Linked DNA regions of Homo sapiens: all the other regions are reported to be linked to region 2. Evidence: microRNA targets listed by miRTarBase, many of them from high-throughput screens and not tested one by one. Region 2 holds a microRNA gene; each other region holds the end of a gene's coding sequence.

Region 1 (5,164 bases), not on the chromosome of region 2:
GAATGAGCTCAGCTTGCTTGAGGAAGTGGGGCAGGAGTATGGGAGGTGAGGTGTGGGAGCCAGAGTGATTGCGTGGACCCTCTGGGTCATAAGAAGCACTCCACATTTTATTAGAAGGGCAATAAGACTTTAAACCACTGGAGAGTTTAAAGTAGGGGAGGATAGAATCTAATTTAGCTTTTGGGATGCTCATTCTGCTGCCGAGTGTAGAAAGCATTGGAGGGAGCAAGTGTAGGGGGAAACCAGTGAAGAAGCAGCTGTGATTGTCCAGTGGAAAGATGATGATGGCTGGCCTAGGTGATTGGGAGAGGGATGACAGCCTGGAAGGGGGTACCTGGAAGCCTAGCAACCTTCCATAAAGACCTATGGAAGAAAAGAACAACAGCGGGAAGTCTCCTCTGAGAGGTAGGAGACCAGGAAAGGAAGTGACAGGGTGGGAGTAAGGGGTTATGGACAAGAGGAATCTGGAAGCCTAGAGCCACAGGTGGGATGAGAGAGGGAGGGCTCAAGGGAAACAAGGCGCACCGTCCTCTGAGCTCCTTCTCTACCCATCCCACCACAGTGGTCATCAGCCGGCAGCGCCGACGCGTGCAACTGATGCGGATTCGGCAGCAGGAAGATCGCAAGGAGAAAAGGCGGAAAAAGAGACCTCCTCGGGCTCCCCTCAGAGGTCCCCGGGCTCCTCCCAGGCCTGGGCCACCAGACCCTGCTTATCGGCGCAGGCCAGTGCCCATCAAACGCTTCAATGGAGACGTCCTCTCCCCGGTGAGCTCCCTGAGCCCATCCAGCCAGAATGAGAAGGAAGTGTGGAAACTCTTTCCAAACAGGACTGGGCTTTCCCCACGGGCTGGTTGCTATCTAGAAGGCCTGTTTGTCCATGAACTGTTTGTCCATGCATCGGAGCCCATGCACCAGGGGCTTGGCGGGTCCAGCTGGTGGGGGAATTGGGGGAAAGGTTCCTGAGTATGGGTTTTAAGTGGGATATGGTATGTGGTGGGGTCTCAGGGCTGTGGACTCTGGGTCTATGGCAGTCTATAGAAGTGTCAGGCTTGTGGGAATTCAGGAAGAGGTGGCTTTTAGGGCAGGATTCTGCGGTGGGACTCACACCTATGTTTGCTCCCCCACAGAGCTATATCCAGAGCTTCCGAGACCGGCAGACCGGGAGCTCCCTGAGCTCCTTCATGGCCTCACCCACAGATGCGGACTATGAGTATGGGTCCCGGGGACCTCTGACAGCCTGCTCAGGCCCCCCAGTGCGGGTATAGCCATATCTGTCTGTCTAGACTCTGCAGTCACCAGCTCTGCCAGCTCGAGGAGGCCTGCTAGGCTGCCACTCAGCCTCCTGGCTTTGGCTGTCCCTCTCCCCAGCCTGGAGAGGGCTGGCCTGGTCACTAGAAGGGAGGATTGTCTCAGGCGAGTCTTGGCCTGAGAGGAAAGCCCCCTCCCAAGCTCCCAAGAGGCTCCTGAGGAACTCGGGGTGTGAACCCCATTGGGGTGTGCTCAGGGTTGTGAGTGTGTTGCCCGTGTGTCTGTGTGTATGTGTGTGGGGGTGGGCAGGCTTGGAGGGGACGCTGGGACCCTTGCCTTAGATTTCTGACTGGTAGGGTTTCTCCAGGCTCAGCCCCACCTCTTCACTCCCTGCCAAGGTCCCATGGGCCACCTCCTGCATGTCTCCGCGGAGGGGCTACCTTCCTTCCCATCGCCCTGCCTCGCAGCCAGACTCATCTAAGGGTTCTTGTCCTTGTCTATGGGGCAAACTGTAGCATCCCTCACCCTGGTCCCCTGGCCTCTGTAAAGCCACCAGCCTGAGGGCAGTGGCAGGAGATGGGGGTGGGGGGGTGCTGCTCTGGGCTGGGTTGGGAAGGGAGTTGGGGAGGGGTTTAAATGCACGGTGCATGTCTGGTGTCTGTCATGCCAACCTAGACACCTCATGCTTCTGTCTCCCCCACCCCACTCTGTTTTACATCTTTTATAAATGTGCCAAACTGTGTGGCCTCTGCCAGGAATGGTGGTCTTTGGTGGCTGGCACTTTCATGGGCCAGGTACAAGCACTACAGCCCTCGGTCCCCAGTGTCGCTCACTGCACAGGGGCTCCAGGCAAGGTCTGCCCCCCCACATCACTCAGAGAGGCAAGGAAATGAGCTGTAGCACTTTTATTGTTCCTTGTCTCTCTACCCCTGCCCAGGGTAAGGGCAAACGCCTTCCAAGCTGTCCAAGGGCACCCGCCTGGCCTGGTTAGGTTCTCCTAGTTGCCTGCAGAGGAATGACTCCACATGGGGCTGGGGAGAGAAGGGGGTACCACCTTCCTCTCCCCTGGCAGAGCCTGGACACCAGTACACAAAGAGCTGGGCCCCCAGGTTCTGCCCTACCCTTTCTGGGCCTTGGTTAGGGCTGTCTTGGCGGCAGGAAGGTGGGGGTCAGCTAGGGGTGGGGCACAGCGCGGCACCTGAAGGGAATGCTGGGATTTGGGATAGAAGGTGGGATGTCTCTTATGGGGAAGAGGAAAGAAAGAGGCTTCTGCCAAGGCTGACATGGAACTTGCTGAGATGGGCAGAGGCAAGCTGGGCAGAGGGCAGGAAGGAGGAGGGACAGGCTGGAGGAAGGCAGTGTTGGTGAAGTGGGGAGGAAAGGAACTGGTAGAAACAGGGCTGTTCAAGAGAGACAAACATGGTCCAGTGGCAGGAGAGAGGAGAAGCCTGGCAAGAAGGGGCGTAGAAAGGTGGGAACAGCTGACCAGGAGCAGCTGATCTGAGCCAAGCAGTTCCAGGGCTTTCCAGCCCTGGGTGTGCTCTACCCCTCCCCTCCCCCATCCCCACCTCCTACGTATCCCAGGACCCGTTGCCACCCCAAGTTCTGGAAAGCCTCCCATAGGTGTGGCTTAACCCATCAGCTCCCAGGCGCCCTCACCCTCCTGCCGCTGCCCAGTTGGCTTTACTCACCCTCTACCAGCAGCCGTGTGTGGGTGCTGTCCTGGCCGGCCTGGCAGCAGTAAGTGCCTTGGTCCTCAGGTCGAACGTCATGGATGACCAGGCTGTGGGTGGGGCCGTGGCTGCGCATCTCATACTTATCTCCCGGGCACAGCTCGGCCCCCTCCCGCAGCCAGCACACGTGGCCCCCCGAGCGGGACACAGTCACCTCCAGCACCGCCCGGCGGCCCACCAGAACGGTCTTCTCGCGAGGGGGGTGGCGGCACATCTGGAGAGGCAATGCTGGGGGTAGGGGGCGGGGGCTTAAGTTAATAGGGACACGCATGGCCCCCAGGAGGAGAGATGCATCTTCCCTCCCTGAAGTCTCCACTCCTGGCCTTAGCCCTCTATGCCACCAGTCCGTTCCCTTGCACCTCAGACCCAAAGTCTCCTCTTGCCGGGGAAACGCGCTGCCCTCTGTGACCCGGCCCAGGAGAGCCCCTCGGGGGGAAGGGAAGAGAGAGGCAGCGTTCTTGGGGCCAGCCCCAAGTCCGTCAGTCCCATGGCAGGAGAGACAGGATGTACACTCTCTGTCGCTCCCACCCCAGGTGCTTACCCTCCACTTCCAGTAGAGCCAGGGACTGGGCGGGCCCCGCCTGGAAGCGGACTTCACCGGCGTCCTCGGCGCGCAGCTCGCTAAGCACCAGAATGTGTTTCTTCCCTGGGGGTGAGGGGGTCGCTAGCGAGGCCGGAGCCACCTCTGAGGAGCGTTGGGGACGAAGGTGGGGGCCCAGCAGGCCCCTGGGTCGGTTCGGACGCCGTTAGTGTATGCTAGGGTGGGCGGAACAGGGATGCGGAGCGGGAAGCCTAGAGGTCCGGGACTAGGGGCTGGGGGCGGGGGAAAGAACAGGGACGAGGCTCACAGGGCCGTGGGGCGGGGCCCGTCGGAGCCAGGGGCGGGGCTTGTCCCGGTGGGGCGGGATCTGTTCGAGCCTGGGCGGGGCAGCGAGGGGCCCGAAAGGGTAACCAGGCGGGCAGACCTTCCTGTCGGATGCGGACGCGGGCTCCGGGTCTCAGCGGGCGGCCTCCGAGCTCCCAGCGCCCCGTGGTCTCGACCTCCGACACGGTGCACTCGAACGTAGCGCCGTCGCCTTCGCGGGCGCTCACCGACCGCAGCTCGGAGAGTACCGCCACAGTACGCTCTGGGGCGGAGCCCGGGGCGTGAGCGGGGCGGGGCAGAGGGCAGTTACCGGTCACGCCCCCTCCACGCCCCCTTTCTAGAAGCACGCGCGGTCATCAGGGTCCGGGGAAGACAGCTCCGCAAGTCTCGCGCCCAAAGCAGTGCCCAGCCTCCACATCACCCCGTACCCACCGCGCACGGTCAGGCGGACCGGTCCGGCGCGGGCCGTCCCCACCGCGCAGCTGTAGGTCCCGGCGTCCGAGGGGCCGCAGCGTCGCAGCTGGAGAAGGCGGCGCGTGCCGAGGGCCTGGAGCCGGAGCCGCGGGCTAGGCGTAAGCGCGTTCCCGTCCTAGGGGCGGGAGTTGCAGAGGGTCGGGGCGAGCCCGGCTGGGCACAGGCGACCCCGGCCCTGGCAGGCGGCGCACCCTTTGTTGATGCCAAGCGGTCTCGAGGCGCGTTTATGCGTGTCTCGTGTTCCCAGGCTGGGGTCGGACTGTCCCCAAGCCTTTGGGGTCGTGCCAGGAGCCTCTTTGAAAAAGCGTCACCCTTTGGGGACCTTAGGGCCGCCAAGGCACTCGGGAAGCCCAGAGCCAGGTATCGATCACAGGGGACATGGGCACGGATTCTGGAGTTAGGCAAACCTGGATTCGAATATGGGCTCTACCTGTTGTCTGCCCTTGGGTAGGTAATTTTTCCCACTGAGCATCAGTTTCCTGATAGGTATTACAGTGACAAGACCTACCTCCTAGAGTTGTCCTTGGAGTAAGGGATTAAATATAATGCAAATCTTAGCACAGTGCCAGGCACATCCGCTCAAGGAATATTAGCTGTTTCTGTCTGGGGCATTATTATCGTTGGTGTTACACTGAAGTGGGCTTGGCTGGGGCTGGGATCTGACCTTCTCCCAGGTAACATCAGCCAAAGCTTGGGAAAGCTCGCACTCGAACGTAGCTGTGTCGCCCTCGGTCACCTCTAGGTCGTGTGGCCCCCGCACGATGGTCACTGGGACCTCTGGGGGTGGGAGAGGGAGGACAGTGCAGAGGGAGCAGGATGGGGACCCATCTTGCAGGGACAAGGA
Region 2 (5,164 bases):
GCAACATCTTGGACCTCAGAGGCCCAAGTTTCAGCAGCCCGGGTTGCAGAGGCTCAGGCCAGGACCAGTCAGCCCAAGCAAATTTCTGTATTGGAGGCGTTAACTGCCTCAGCCCTGAACCAGAAACCCACGCATGAGAAGGTGCAGATGACAGAGAAGAAAGAGAGTGAGGTCCTCCTTGCCCGTCCGTTCTGGTCCAGCAAAACTGAGTATATTCTGGCTCAGGTGGGCTTCTCTATGAAGCCATCTTGTCTCTGGCGCTTTGCCTACCTGTGGCTTAACAGTGGAGGCTGTAAGTCTGGGGACCAGGAAACCTGGGTCCACAAGGGGCAATCAGGACAGAGTCCTGTCCAGGCTTTAACCATGAATGTTTCTGAGATATGTAGAGACTAAAGACCTGGTGCTCTGAGCAGGATAGGAGCCAGGTCCCTGGACACTTAGGATCATGAGAGGTTCAGGGTATCTGAACATGGGGATGGCAAAGCTGGAGGCCTGGGCCCAAGATGGGCTGGAAACTAGGTACTTGGGTCTTCCAGGATTTGGGGGCCAGAGGACTGGACACTTGGGACCGTGAGGGATGTAGACATGGGTGAGCCCTGATGCCTGTGGCCCTGGAAGAGGTCGCTGGTAGGGAGAATGTTTTCCTGGGCTCCTGGAGTCCAGGCACTGAAAGGCCACATGGTTCTCAGAGTCCCTTCTGAATCTTCTTCACAGGCAGTTTCGCTGCCATCTACATCTTCATGCTGTTCCTGGTCGGGGTTCCTCTTCTCTTCCTGGAGATGGCAGCTGGTCAGAGCATGCGTCAGGGTGGCATGGGTGTATGGAAGATCATTGCCCCCTGGATTGGTGGTGTGGGGTATTCTAGCTTCATGGTGAGGAGCCCATGGCTGCCCAGGCCTGACTTTTACACCCCACCGCCATCCCAACCCTCCTCCTGAAATGCGCCCTGTGAATACCTCCATGGGTCAGATCCCTTTGGTTCCCCAATCCTCTGTCAAATCCCCTCCCTTTTCCTGTCCCTGCTCTTCCTCCCCAGCCATATCCTCCTTGGCCCCCAGGTGTGCTTCATCCTCGGCCTGTACTTCAATGTGGTCAATTCCTGGATCATCTTCTACATGAGCCAGTCCTTCCAGTTTCCCGTTCCATGGGAGAAATGTCCCTTAACGATGAACTCTAGTGGCTTTGGTGAGGAGGAAGTGAAAGAAGAGGAGAAGGGAAAAATGGAGAAGTAGAAGTAGAAGGGAATTTGGAATAGGAGAGAGTGGGGAGGGACAAGGAAGAGGAAGAAGAAGGAAAAAGAAATGGGAGAGGGAAAGAGAAAAGGGAGGTGGGGGAGGGGATAAGGAAGAAGAGGGGGTACCTTGTCTAGCAGGCATGTCTAAAGCCAGGTCCCCCCAGATCCTGAATGTGAACGGACAACACCCTCCATATACTTCTGGTACCAGCAGGCCTTGAAGGCCTCAGACAGAATCGAGGATGGCGGGTCACCAGTCTACAGTCTGGTCCTGCCCTTCTTTCTTTGCTGGTGTCTTGTTGGTGCTTTCATGATCAATGGGCTCAAGTCCACTGGGAAGGTGAGCCACCAGTATTGGATTCCTTGAAATTCTCAGATGCTTTAGCCCTTACCTCAATTTGTTACTTGTTGATCTCCTAATCTCTTACTCCTTTGGCTTTTACTCCCCTAGCCCCTGACTCTTGCTGAAGGCTTTCTTCTAACTCCTACTCATTTCTGACTCAGAACTTTTGATCCCTCCTAACTGTTGGTTGACCCCTACTGGTACACGGTTGCTGATATGTCCCACTCTCGATTCAGGTAATCTATGTCTTGGTACTGCTCCCCTGTTTCATCATTGTCGGTTTCTTCATCCGGACTCTACTCCTGGAAGGGGCAAAATTTGGCCTTCAACAGTTGGTGGTTGCCAAGGTGAAATCTATCTCCTCACTCCCCCGTCAGGCCTTGTAGGGCACCACAGCTGCCTATTCTTAGAGCTTCCTTTCCCCATTCTTTACTTTTGTATCTCCCTCTCTCCTCCCTGCAACATTTCTATTATAGTTGTCCTCTGCTTCTTCTTTTACAACCCCCTTATGCTTGTCTTCTCTCTTTTAGATATCGGATGTGTACAATATGAGTGTGTGGTCTCTAGCAGGGGGTCAAGTTTTGTCTAACACAGGCATAGGCCTTGGCTCCGTTGCCTCCTTAGCCTCCTACATGCCCCAGTCCAACAACTGTCTCAGTGATGCCTTTCTCGTGTCTGTGATAAACCTGCTCACTTTGTTGGTTTTCACATCTTTCAACTTCTGTGTCCTGGGCTTCTGGGCGACAGTCATCACACATCGCTGCTGTGAGAGGTAAGGCCGGCCCCTTTGTTAAGGGTCTCAGCTCCAGGGAACTTTAAAACCCTGAGACCCTAACCTTAAAGGTGCTGCAAAGACCCATGTTCACACATTTCAACCTTGGGTGCACTTGCAAGCCCTCTACCTTCCCCATAGCTAAAAATGGAGACAATAGAATCTCCTATCATATATTATCCTTCTCAGAGCCTTTTGTCACCCTAGAAATAAATCTTCAAACTCAGAGATTGCCAGCTATCCACCTCAGAGTGGATATGCTAACAGGGATGTACTAAAAATTGCAAACATTGAAGGCTTCTCTAATCCCAGATACACAACAAAATACCATCCAAGACCATACCACACAGAGACTTCCAAGGCCATCCTTGGAAAAATGGAGAAGTAGAAGGCCCCCATTATTTTATTTTATTTTTATTTTTTGAGATGGAGTCTCGCTCTTTCACCCAGGCTGGAGTGCAGTGGCGCGAACTTGGCTCACTGCAAGCTCTGCCTCCTGGGTTCAAGCCATTCTCCTGCCTCAGCCTCCTGAGTAGCTGGGACTACAGGTGCCCATCACCAGGCCCGGCTAATTTTTTTGTATTTTTAGTAAAGACAGGGTTTCACCATGTTAGCCAGGATGGTCTCGATCTCCCGACCTCATAATCCGCCCGCCTCAGCCTCCCAAAGTGCTGCGATTACAGGCGTGAGCCACCGCGCCCTAAGGCCCCCATTCTTAACTGTTAACTCCTGAATTGGGGATTTCTGTCAATCTAGCAGAAACTCCAAAAGGATTCTCTGTACTAGAACCTTGATTGTCTGATCACCCCTGTTTCTTATTTTTCTTATTTTTAGGCATTAATTCCAAAAACATCCATCAGACAGACATTTAGGAAGTGTTCTTTCTATACAACAGAGACTTGGACAGGTGAATCAGACCACAGTCCTTGTTTCATTAAGTTTTCAATTTTGGAGGGGGAAGGAAAGGAGAATGAGACAGCCAAAAACTTGTGCTAACTGGTAACTGAAGTGATGGGTGAGGACAGGAGACAGAGCCATTAATTCTGTCTGGACTAGTCAGATGGGGCCTTCCAGAGGAGGCAACCCTGAGTTGAATTTCTCCCAGTAATCTTTTTTTTTTCTTTTTCTTTTTTTTCTTTTTCTTTTTTTTTGCTTCCTCCTCCTCTTCCTCTCTCTCCCAGCAGATTTTTTTTTTTTAATTTAAATTTTTGAGAACAGGGTCCCACTATATTGCTCAGGCAGGTCTTGAACTCCTGGGCTCAAGCCATCCTCCTGCCTCTGCCTCCCAAAGAGCTGGGATTACAGGCGTGAGCCACCGCGCCCGACCTCTCCTAGTAACCCTAACCCTCACAAATAACCACCATTTTCTTCTAGAAGATGCCTGGGAATATACATGTGTGCGTGTGCAAGAGTTCTTGACAGCATATAGTTAGGAAAGGAATTGCTGAGTAGGGTGTGCTCCCCTTCAATTTTATCATATATTGTCTGGTTTTCAAAGTGGCGTAATGCATTGCCCTCCCATCAGGGATGTGTGAGACTTCCATTTGTTCTACTTTTTGCACAACACTTGATTAAACTTGGTTGGACTTTTAAATTGTTTCCAGTCTGGTGGGAGTGTAATGGTAGTTTTTTTGTGTATTTTCAAAAAAACCTTTTATTATGAGCTATTACCTACATATGGAAAAATGCATAAAACAAGGCCGGGAGCAGTGGCTCACGCCTGTAATGCCAGCTCTTAGGGAGGCTGAGGTGGGAGGATTGCTTGAACCCAGGAGTTTGAAATCAGCTGGGCGAGACCCTTCCTCTAACAAAAAAAAAAAAAAAGTGTATAAAACAATGCACTGTGTAACGAACCGTGAAGTAAACATCACCTGTATTAAGAACTAGAATAACCCTAGATGCTCTCTGTGTATCTTTTTCTAATCATAATCTCTTTACTGCCTCCCAGAGGTAACCATCATAAAAGTCAGGATAGTGGTTACTATATTGCTTAGTAGATACGCATACATAGATGATCAAATGTAAAGAAAAACAAGCCGGGTGCGGTGGCTCATGCCTATAATCCCAGCACTTTGGGAGGCTGAGGCAGATGGATCACGAGGTCAGGAGTTTGAGACCAGCCTGGCCAATATGGTGAAACCCCATCTCTACTAACAAATACAAAAATTAGCCGGGCGTGGTGGCACACACCTGTAGTCCCAGCTACTCAGGAGGCCAAAGCAGGAGAATTGCTTGAACCTGGGAGGTGGAGGCTGCAGTGAGCTGAGATTGTGCCACTGCATTCCACCTGGGCAACAGAGTGAGACTCTCTCTCAAAAAAAAAAAAAAGAAAAAAAAAAAACAAAGAACTAAGGATAGTGATTAATGTTTTTCTTTATATTCTATCATCTATGTATGCATAGCTAAGCAATATAATTTGTCCACTTATATAAAGCAATATGTTTAGTTATTTGTTCCCTCATATATACATTCTCTTTGCTTACTTTTGTGCTTTCTTTTTCTCATCCAACATGTTTGCAATATTTATCCATATTGTGTATAACTTTAATCTGTGCTCTTTCTTTTTCTTTTTTTTTTTGAGACAGACTCTCGCTCTGTTGCCCAGGCTGGAGTGCAGTGGTGTGATCTCGGCTCACTGCAACCTCTGCCTCCTGGGTTCACACCATTCTCTTGCCTCAGCCTCCCAAGTAGCTGGGATTACAGGTGCCCACGACCATGCCTGGCTAATTTTTTGTATTTTTAGCAGAGACAGGGTTTCACCGTGTTAGCCAGGACGGTCTCGATCTTCTGACCTCGTGATCCGCCCGCCTCGGCC
Region 3 (5,164 bases), not on the chromosome of region 2:
AATTATAACAGAGCCATGAATTGAACCAGATCTGCAGAGTCAGAGCAGTTAATCATTAAGCTACACTGACTCTTCAAAAGGGTGATGAAAGAGAACCCTTTGATATGAGAATAAATTCAAGGTGAGGAGAGGGTTGGAATGGATTTGTAATGAAATCTCTCTGTCTTGGTAGGTTCATCCTGACAAAAATCATCATCCCCGGGCTGAGGAGGCCTTCAAGGTTTTGCGAGCAGCTTGGGACATTGTCAGCAATGCTGAAAAGCGAAAGGAGTATGAGATGTAAGTTGGAGATGGGAAATCATCAGATAATGGTAAATGAAAAATCCTCAATAGCAGAGGCATCTGGACTTGGGGGTGGAGGCTTGTTGAGATGGAGAGAACTGAAGTCACTTGTCTTTCTCGCTAGACAGGGGCCTCAAGAGGCCAACTGATATGTCTTCCTTTGTCCCTCCCTCAATACCTTCTGACTTACAAAGCATTTCTTCTATTAGGAAACGAATGGCAGAGAATGAGCTGAGCCGGTCAGTAAATGAGTTTCTGTCCAAGCTGCAAGATGACCTCAAGGAGGCAATGAATACTATGATGTGTAGCCGATGCCAAGGAAAGCATAGGTATGAAATAGAAGGAGAGGGATGGGACAATCACAGCTCAGGGATTATGTAACCAAGGATCTTTCTAGTGAGTACTGGTAATTATGAGTTACATCTGTATCTCATAATTAGTAAAAAGACCCTTAAGTTTCTACCTTTGTCATATTGTCAATAGACTGACGATTTTAATTAGCACTAAGAAACATTAGCTTTAGGATAGAACGTTGAAGGGATATGAAATACTAAGTGGGGTAATTTTAGATGTTTCAGCCCTATTTGTGAATAATGGTAAGACTACTAGCAGTGCCCTAGGTAGGCTTGACAAATTATTAAGGAACTATCCTTTTGTTGGTTGCAGGAGGTTTGAAATGGACCGGGAACCTAAGAGTGCCAGATACTGTGCTGAGTGTAATAGGCTGCATCCTGCTGAGGAAGGAGACTTTTGGGCAGAGTCAAGCATGTTGGGCCTCAAGATCACCTACTTTGCACTGATGGATGGAAAGGTGTATGACATCACAGGTACTCTCTGTCCTCTAGAAATACAGGCTCATACTTCCTGATCTTTTATGTGCTCTAAACTGCGACGTTTTGGCTAATTATTTCTCATGTTTATAGAGTGGGCTGGATGCCAGCGTGTAGGTATCTCCCCAGATACCCACAGAGTCCCCTATCACATCTCATTTGGTTCTCGGATTCCAGGCACCAGAGGGCGGCAGAGGTAGGTGGTATTTCTGTCAATAATCTATCCACTATTTCAGTTTTGAATACGGTTTCAGATGACCTGCTTTTTAGGACACCCAGGGGCCTTGTTTTCTAGGAAGTTTGGGAACTGATAAGTATATCTAACTTAGGTAACCATATGACTCTAACATCTCTTGCCTTATTTCTTCTGTTTTACCTCAGAGCCACCCCAGATGCCCCTCCTGCTGATCTTCAGGATTTCTTGAGTCGGATCTTTCAAGTACCCCCAGGGCAGATGCCCAATGGGAACTTCTTTGCAGCTCCTCAGCCTGCCCCTGGAGCCGCTGCAGCCTCTAAGCCCAACAGCACAGTACCCAAGGGAGAAGCCAAACCTAAGCGGCGGAAGAAAGTGAGGAGGCCCTTCCAACGTTGATGCCCCTTCTCTTTCCTCAAATCAATGTCAGGGAGTCAAAAGGGCTGTAGCACAGGATGGAGTTTGATTTATCCCTCCTCCCCCAACACCTAGGAACTGAATCTTTTTCTTTTTATTTTTTGAGATGGAGTCTTGCTCTGTTGCCCAGCTGGAGTGCAGTGGTGTGATCTCAGCTTACTGCAACCTCTGTCTCCCGGGTTCAAGCAATTCTCCCATCTCAGCCTCCTGAGTAGCTGGGATTACAGGCACACACCACCACACCTGGCCCAGCTAATTCTTTTTTGTATTTTTAGTAGAGACGGGGTTTCACCATGTTGCCCAGGCTGGTCTCGAACTCCTGAGCTCAGGTGATCCACCCGTCTTGGCCTCCCAAAGTGCTGGATTACAGGCATAAGCCACTGTGCCCGGCCTGAATCTTGTCTTTTGACAATACCAAAGAAATAGGGGGTAGCTAGAGTAAAGAACCTAGGGCCTGGACCTGGGCTGGACAGTGTATCCCTTTAGGTGTGGGAACTGGGTATTTCCCTGGGGTCTGTATGCCTTTGTCTTGTCATTTGCTTTTAGGGCAGATGACACTTTTTCCCACCCTTTTAAAGCTACAAGTCTATCTTCTTTCTTGACCCATTTCAGGAGGGAGCCCTCTCCTTTATCCTGATATAATATTTAAAAGAGAACAAGAAAGCATGTAGCCCTAATGATAGGAGATTATCGCATAGAGTTCAGAGACTGGAAACTGAATTTTCCCTCGACTTTCACTTTGTGGGTAAATCACCCAATTTTAGGCTCTTTTCTGCAAGGATGGCCAAAATTAATCATTTTTAAAAAGTAGATTCATGCCCACTGCCCTTGGGTGAGGGGGAAGAATACGGGGGTTCCCAGAAGCCCCCATGTGATCCAAGGGTTTGTATTTTTTTTTTAAGTTTGTTCATATTTGTATGTACATGACTATTTAAAGCCAGGGGATTATCTTTCTATAAATGTATAACTGGCAACCTGTATCTTCCCTCTTTGTTGCCCATATAGCCGGAGCCCTTTTTCTCATTTGAGAATCTCTTCCCTACTAAGTGTTAAGCTTAGAGTGAAGGGCACCTCCTACTGGACCAAAGGAGAGGGGATTGGAGAATTGTTTTAAGTTTTATACATTAGGTCAGTATTCCATCTTCCCACCCCCAGCCTTATGAGGACAGCTCTCTACCCATCCTGATTAAACTGCAGCTATAGCTGAAAAAAATTATTGTAAGAAAAATACACAGCAAAACAGAGCTGGAAGGTGGTAAGTGTAAAAGATATGGAAAGATGTAATCACCAAAGAAGCTGCCCAAATGGCTTCCTGCTATGGAGGAGAGTGATTTGGCCCTTACCTCACCTGCCTTCCTGATTCAAAGAAACTTGCCACTAGCAGGACTGGGCCCAGGAGCCCCATTTGCCAATCTCTTCTCTTCTTGGGAGTCTGGGAAAGGTTGTATAGTTCTCAGGCTTTAAAGGTGTAGAAGACAGTATGGAGAATAAGAGAAGGATGTTTTATAGTCCTCTGTTTCAGTGCCTTCCCCATGCCCATGGAGCTGTCCCAAAACCCATCCCTCAGTATTTGTTGATGCCAAAGACACGAACCCCATGGAACTGGGGCAACTTCGGCAGCAGTACACTTAGCAATGAGGCTGTGTTGATGAGGAAGTGCGCAGCATCATACTTGGTATAGAAGCTGGCCAGGAGATAGCTGGGGAGAGAAAAAAATAGGGTGAGTGAGGTTGACCTTCTCTATCCATATTCTTTTTTTTTTTTAAGAGACAGTTCTCACCATGTTTCCCAGGTTGGAGTGCAGTGGCTATTCATAAGTGTGATACGTGCAGTACAACCTCAAACTCCTGGGCTCAAACAATCCTTCTGCCATAGCCTCCCAAGTAGCTGGGACTCCAGGCATGCACCACAGTGCCCTGCTCTTTCTCTTCTATTTTAAATGACCAGTTTTACTGTATATAGTTCTAGATTATCTAAAACTATTCCAGCTATATCAACAGCATTTACTTTGGGGTTCAGGAGATAGCACCCTTAACTGGAGACTGTAAGTCAGTATCTGTTAATTGTTAATGACATGGCAAATGACGGCTCAAGCTATTTCAGTCTGTATGACTGTTACAGTCCTCTTTGCTTCCACTCCCTACAGTGTTTTTGAAGATTAATATCAGTTCTGCCTTTATTTACTTCTTTTGGCAGTGTAAAATCATTTGGTTTTATTTGGCACTTATCTTTTCTCAGTCCCTTCATTTCCTTACTACCAAGGAGGCAGCAAGGAATGCTTGATTACAGTATTGACTGTAATCTACATTTTACTGCTCTCTGTAGGCTTAGAACTAGTATACCATAATATCTTCAAAGGGTTTTAGATGAGAAGTCTGCTTTTTAACAGCTTCCCTATGGGCCTTTCTACCTGGCTCTTGGAGCTCTTTCTAACCCAGCATATCTCATTTCCCCCATAGACTCACAGCACAATAGGAGAGATGCTGAGGAACTTGCGGGAAGAGGTAAACTGGAGCCCATAGTCCATTTGCTCCCAGTGTGTCAGTAGCCGAGCCTTTCCTTGGTCAGGAGTCTCAAAGGGTGTCCCTTTCACCGTATGAAGGAAGACATACGTAGCCTGGGAACAGGGAAGGTGGCAGTGTGAGGGGCAGAAAGTAGTTTTTCAGTCAAAGAATTATGTTAAGATCCCAAAAGGAACACATAAATCCCCAAACAATTGGTGATTTTATTTTGCTTTTGGTTGGGAAACCCTGGGGTGGGTACAAGGGCGTGGTTTAGTGCTCACCAGGTTATGGATGACGTTGGTCAGGGTCCAGACAACAGGAATGCTGAAGAAGGGGATGCTGAGTAGAACCATATGCAGCAATCCTACCAAGATGATGTAGGCCAGCCAGATGCCTCGGCTATTCATCACTCGGGTGTTGGGGTTTACTTCGCTGTGTGCCACCCCCACATTCATCCTAGCCGTAATGGGGGATCAGGCAGGAGTCCAGCTCAGTTTTTTCTCAACCCCTCTTGAGCTATCTCCCAGTTGTCTCTCAGATAGCCCCAATCCCCTGAACTCTATTGGGAATGAAGAACTTACCCATCACGCAGAAAATAAAAACTGAAGACTTGGGGAAAACTTTAAAAGACAAGAAGAGTCCTCACTACATTTCAGAGACATAGTCATTATTGCTCTGATCTTTACACGTCAACTGTAACATGAAGGTGTATGTGTAGGCTTGGGGCACTCACTTCAGGGAGCAAGGGAAATAGGAGTATCTGACTTTGCTGAAGAAGTTAATAACCATGAAGAGGTCACGTACACCCAGAATTCCAGGCGAAAGTCATGGAATCATCAAAGAACCACTAAGAAGGGATGACAGAGTAAAGCTCACTCTGGTCCCCACTTTGTTCTCTGGGGCTTGTCCACCCTCTCTCTCACCTCCGTGGCATGTAA
Region 4 (5,164 bases), not on the chromosome of region 2:
GACTTCTGCCTTTATCTTTCAGGCATCTGAAAGTTCCTGATGGCTCTCTCTGATCAATATGCAACAGTCACAGCTGTTTTAAAAAGACCTCTGTCTACCTCAGTTAAAGTCTGAGGCCAGACTAACTGTGGCTCTGTAGCTGGTTACAGTGATACGGCCTAAAGGCTTTCACCATTAGATCTATTTTTGAAAGTGCAAATGGATGTTTCCCTAATTTTATATCAGAGAACCATGCGTACCATGTTTTACTTATATATATATATTTATTTTATTTTTTTAGACAGAGTCTTGTTCTCTTGCCCAGGCTGGAGTGCAGTGGCGTGATCTCGGCTCACTGGAACCTCCGCCTCCCAGATTCAAGCGATTCTCCTGCCTCAGCCTCCTAAGTAGCTGGGATTACAGGCGTGTGCCACCACACCTGGATAATTTTTGTATTTTTAGTAGAGACGGGGTTTCACCACGTTGGCCAGGCTGGTCTCGAACTCCTGACCTCAAGTGATCTGCCTGCCTCGACCTCCCAAAGTGCTGGGGTTACAGGCGTGACCCATCGCGCTCAGCCCATAGTATATGTTTTATTGTTCATTTTTCTTAAGTACTTCCTTTAGCCTCATCTAAGCAGTAATGTCCATGAAATCTGGGCCACAGTTTCCTGACTGACATTAAACAAATACAGAACTATTTAAATTAGAAATACTCATTCGTTTACAACAGAATCCTCTTATATTCCACACGGTTTTCAAGTATTCCTTTCTCTGCGTCATTAGGGTAATTAAAGAAACCCAAGATTTGTTTCAGCAGCTTTTGATTTCCACTGGTAACGGGATAAATCCTCCATAGCGGCTAACGTGGAAGACACCTCACACATCACATCAGCATGCATGCCTTGCCCATACCGCGTGACCTCCAAGGTACCGTGTCCAAATGACACGCAGAATACCCTGCTGCTTTCTTGGAATAACTTTGACCTGCACCCCCAACTTTGTCTTTCACACCTTGAATTGATTTGCTCCCTTCTAAGTTTGCTGCTATATGTCTCCGGCATTGCAAAAAACGTGACTTGCACAGCAAAGGGTCAGCTCTCATTTCTGTGTTTGCTTTCCCTTCCAAAGGTTTAGCTTCTTCTCCCGAGATAAGAAGCGCCTGGCCAACACACAGAGAAACGTGCACATCCAGGAGTCCTTTGGACAGTGGGCAAACACCCACCGCGATGACGGTTACACAGAGCAAGGACAGGAAGCCCTGCAGCATCTGTGACCTTGGCCCATCTCCACCCTCCAACCTGGACTGCCCGCCACCAGCGCCTGCAACCGAACTGCAGCCCAGGGGTCATTGCTGCCTCAAGCCTCTCGGTGCAGATGCACCCTGAAAACTGACCCCTCAAACAGACTGTCTGATTTGAGGATGGACATTGAAAAACTGACGCCAAACTCTAAAGAAATGTTTATTTATACCCAGGGCTATCACTGTTTCTAATAGATGACTCTGATCCCGTAGGATATATATTTAATAATCCCACAAACGGAGGCCAGACTTCTGCGTTAACTTCAGTAACACAAGCTTCTTTAAGCCAAATACATCACTTGCCACTATCATTGCTGTTTGACTTGCTTTGTATAAAATGCTATGTGTAGAGGTTTTATTATCACAGGTGACATAGTTCAGCAGGAGGCATGGAAGGGCTAGATCTTCATTAGTTACATTCATGAAATTGTGATGGTAACGTATTATACAGAATGTATCCATCAGGCAGACAAGGGGTCTGAAGTCACAGGCTCAGTAGCCCAACTCAGACACAAAGCCACAGACAATATGGATGATGGTCCTCTTACCCAGAAACTGGAGACAACTTTGCAGGCACCCTGGCTGCGTTCCTGATAATGCCTAGAGCATGTAGCAATGTTCAAGGCAGGTGCCTTGGAATCTGCTGTGAGTTATGCAGTACTAACCAAACAAAGTTGCTAAGGATGAGATGTTGCAACATTTCTTGTGTGCACTTTTTTTTCCTGACATCTTTTTTTCCTTTTAGGATTCATTAAGTCATATACTTAGTCCCCTGCAAAGAAGAAGACAGATGTCCCAGAGCAGACTGAAAGCGGGGCGTGGGATCCTAGGCAATGCAGGAGGGCAGGTGGGGGAGCTGTAGCAGAACAAGGGTGCTAGGTGGGAAGCTGGCTTGGGGACCACACGTCTGGCTGACTCACAGGGCTATAGCAGCAGACAGAGAGCCAGATGCTCTACTGCAACTGGTGAGTTGGAGGCTTGCCCACATAACACTGTCTTTCTCTCCACCCGCCAAGCATCCAGGGCACAGGGCTGGTTGCTCACAGATTGAGCGAGGTAGCACCTCCTACCAGCACTCAAGTTTATCAGGGCCGCGTTCTAAACATTCTACTGAAGTTTGCTAAGAAACCATTAGGTGAGGCTGGGCACAGTGGCTCACGCCTGCTATCCCAGCACTTTGGGAGGCCGAGGCAGGTGGGTCACTTGAGGTCCGGAGTTCGAGACCAGCTTGGCCAACACGGTGAAACCCCATCTCTACAAAAATACAAAAAAATTAGCCAGGCGAGGTGGTGCATGCCTATAATCCCAGCTGCTCAGGAGGCCGAGACAGGAGAATTCCTTGAACCTAGGAGGCAGAGGTTGCAGTGAGCCTAGATCGTGCCATTGCACTCCAGCCTGGGCGACAGAGTGAGACTTCATCTAAAAAAAAAAAAAAAAAGAAAGAAAGAAACCATCAGGTGAATTTGCAGAATCTAGAATGGACTCTGCTTCCAGATTGCCGAAAAAAAGAAATGATCAGACAGGGTAATTATTGCTGCGTTAGAGCAGTGTTTCTCAAACCTGAGTGCCCATTAGAATTATTAGAATTTATTCTCAAAGAGTATAGAAGCAGGTATACTGATGAATTTCTCTCCCACCCCTGGCCACCTTTGTTGCCCTTCCAACAGGTAACCAAAATTGCCAGTTTCTTGGTTATCTTTCCTAAACACTAAATGTCTCTCTTTTTTTTGAGATAGTCTTGCTCTATTGCCCAAGCCAAAGTATAGTGGCACCATCTCTGCTCACTGCAACTTCCGCCTCTTGAGTTCAAGCAATTCTCATGCCTGAGCCTCCCAAGTAGCTGGGACTACATGTGTGTGCCACCATACCTGACTAATTTTTGTATTTTTAGTAAAGACGGGGTTTCACCATGTTGGCCAGGCTGGTCTCGAGGTCTCGAACTCCTGACCTCAAGTGATTCACCTGCCTTGGCCTCTCAAAGTGCTGGGATTACAGGTGTGAGCCACTGTGGCTGGCCTTTTTTTTTTTTTTTTTTTTGGACACAGGGTCTCACTCTGTCACCTAGGCTGGAGTACAGTGGCACTATCATAGCTCATTGCAGCTATGAACCCCTGGGCTCAAGCAATCCTCCCACCTCAGCCTCCCAAGTAGCTGGTACTACTGATGTGCACCACCATGCCCAGCTAATTATTTTTTGTAGAGACCAGGTCTTACTTTGTTGCCTAAGCTGGTCTCAAACTCCTGGGCTCAAGTGATCCTCACACCCCAGCCTCCCAAAGTGCTGGGAATTCAGGTGTGAGCCACCGTGCCTGGCCAAATGTCACTTTTTTGATAAGTCAGCAGATCCAGCTCTTGAGCACATCAGAGGCTAGATAATCGGGACAGAAAGGAAAAATCAATCCATCAGAAAGTTTATACATGCAATTATGTAAAATAAAATCAAGAACAAAAAGCATATATATATGTACATGTGTGTATATATTCCTTCTTTCCTTTTTTCTTAAGGGACAAGGTCTTACTATGTCACCAAGGCTGGTCCCAAACTCCTGGCCTCAAGCAATCCTCCTGCCTCAGCCTCCCGAGTAGATGGGACTATAGACATGAACCACCATACCTGGCCCTCCTTTTTTTTTTTATTTAAATGGCAGCATAATATATTCATGCTGTTCTGTGCTTTTCTTTTTTCCCCTTGAAATATCCTAGAGAGGGCCAAGGTGCAGTGGGTCACACCTATAATCCCCATATTTTGGGAGGTCAAGTAGGGAGGATCACTTGAGCCCAGGAGTTTAAGACAAACCTAGGTGACATAGCAATAACCCACCTCTACAAAAAATTAATTAAAATAAAAAAATAGGTGGGTGTGGTGGTGTACACCTATGATCTCAGCTACTTGGGAGGCTAAGGCAGGAGGATCCCTTGAGCCCAGTTCAAGGCTGCAGTGAGCTGTGATCACACCACTGCACTCCAGCCTGGGGGACAGAGTGAGACCCTGCCTCAAAAAAGAAAAAAAAATGTATAGCAATAACTCCATATGAGTACATAAGACAGCGGCTCTCATGGCCAGGAGCAGTGGTTCATACCTGTAATCCCAGCACTTTGGGAGGCTGAGGCAGGCAGATCATGAGGTCAGGAGTTTGAGACCAGCCTGGCCAACATAGAGAAATCCCATCTCTACTAAAAATACAAAAATTAGCTGGGCATGGGGGCATGCGCCTGTTGTCCCAGCTACTCAGGAGGCTGAGGCAGGAGAATCGCTTGAACCCGGGAGGCAGAGTTTGCAGTGAGCGGAGATCGCACCACTGCACTCCAGCCTGGGCGACAGAGCGAGACTCTGTCTCAAAAAAAAAAAGAAAAGACAGTGGCTCTCAACCACGGATGACTGAGCCCCCCAGGGGACATTTGGCAGTCTGGAGACATTTTTGATTGTCACAACTGGAGGGGGAGAGAGGATACTGTCATCTATGGGTAGACACCAAGGAAGGTGCTAATGAACATCCTACAATGCCCTGGTCTACCATATGGGGGTGATATTTATTAATGTTTATCTAGGCCCCACTGATGGACAGGTAGCTTCCTTCCAATCCTTTACTCTCAAAAAGTGTTGCACACTGTCACACACACAAAAGTCTACAGAATAAACTAGAAGCAGAATTGCTAGATCAAAGAGTATTTGCTTCTGTCATGTTCATGGAGACTGCCAAAGTCCCTACCATGGAGGCTGTACCATTGTTTTTCTTTCAAAGTCACCACAGCCCATAGAACACTAAGCCCAAATGTACAGGGTTGGAGTCTGAGTGTGCAAGTTTTTTGTTTTTTGTTTTGAGACAGGGTCTTACTCTGTCACCCAGGTTGGAGTGCAGTGGCACAATCTCAGCTCACTGCA

Evidence for each region. The annotated mature microRNA hsa-miR-4324 reads CCCUGAGACCCUAACCUUAA and lies in region 2 at 2,399-2,418, shown strand. An mRNA with a match to its seed (bases 2 to 7 or 8) in the 3' UTR can be bound and repressed. Matches are read on the target gene's strand: a 7mer-m8 pairs with bases 2 to 8, a 7mer-A1 pairs with bases 2 to 7 and ends in A, and an 8mer does both.
Region 1: miRTarBase lists TMEM198 as a target of hsa-miR-4324. Seed matches in the 3' UTR shown: 7mer-m8 at 1,408-1,414.
Region 3: miRTarBase lists ORMDL2 as a target of hsa-miR-4324. Seed matches in the 3' UTR shown: 7mer-A1 at 2,040-2,046 and 7mer-A1 at 1,928-1,934.
Region 4: the mRNA of RILPL1 is a reported target of hsa-miR-4324. Seed matches in the 3' UTR shown: 7mer-A1 at 2,594-2,600.

The regions. Positions count from the first base shown.
Region 1 is chr2:219,548,590-219,553,753 of GRCh38, forward strand. TMEM198 (transmembrane protein 198) reads left to right here. Exons shown (of 5, transcript NM_001005209.3): 4 at 563-765; 5 at 1,128-2,006. The coding sequence ends at 1,265. It overlaps OBSL1 (obscurin like cytoskeletal adaptor 1), which reads right to left. Exons shown (of 21, transcript NM_015311.3): 16 at 4,985-5,097; 17 at 4,279-4,435; 18 at 3,947-4,108; 19 at 3,523-3,627; 20 at 2,940-3,209; 21 at 2,139-2,253. The coding sequence ends at 2,246. It overlaps MIR3132 (microRNA 3132), which reads right to left and starts at 558; the gene lies at 484-558. RefSeq lists silencers at 3,787-3,946, 4,167-4,256 and enhancers at 4,045-4,545, 4,546-5,046.
Region 2 is chr19:49,306,061-49,311,224 of GRCh38, reverse strand. MIR4324 (microRNA 4324) reads left to right here and starts at 2,357; the gene lies at 2,357-2,428. SLC6A16 (solute carrier family 6 member 16) reads left to right here. Exons shown (of 12, transcript NM_014037.3): 2 at 1-292; 3 at 715-872; 4 at 1,059-1,185; 5 at 1,399-1,574; 6 at 1,814-1,924; 7 at 2,108-2,349.
Region 3 is chr12:55,818,517-55,823,680 of GRCh38, reverse strand. ORMDL2 (ORMDL sphingolipid biosynthesis regulator 2) reads right to left here. Exons shown (of 4, transcript NM_014182.5): 2 at 4,508-4,682; 3 at 4,188-4,339; 4 at 1,802-3,421. The coding sequence starts at 4,681. The coding sequence ends at 3,286. It overlaps DNAJC14 (DnaJ heat shock protein family (Hsp40) member C14), which reads left to right. Exons shown (of 7, transcript NM_032364.6): 3 at 173-279; 4 at 492-611; 5 at 949-1,109; 6 at 1,206-1,308; 7 at 1,494-2,696. The coding sequence ends at 1,704. Among named protein-coding and RNA genes, the nearest start is that of ORMDL2, 3.1 kb to the right of the region's middle.
Region 4 is chr12:123,468,628-123,473,791 of GRCh38, reverse strand. RILPL1 (Rab interacting lysosomal protein like 1) reads left to right here. Exons shown (of 7, transcript NM_178314.5): 7 at 1,110-3,738. The coding sequence ends at 1,254. It also overlaps a transcript of SNRNP35 not described here. Among named protein-coding and RNA genes, the nearest start is that of SNRNP35, 13 kb to the right of the region's middle. RefSeq lists a silencer at 4,696-4,990.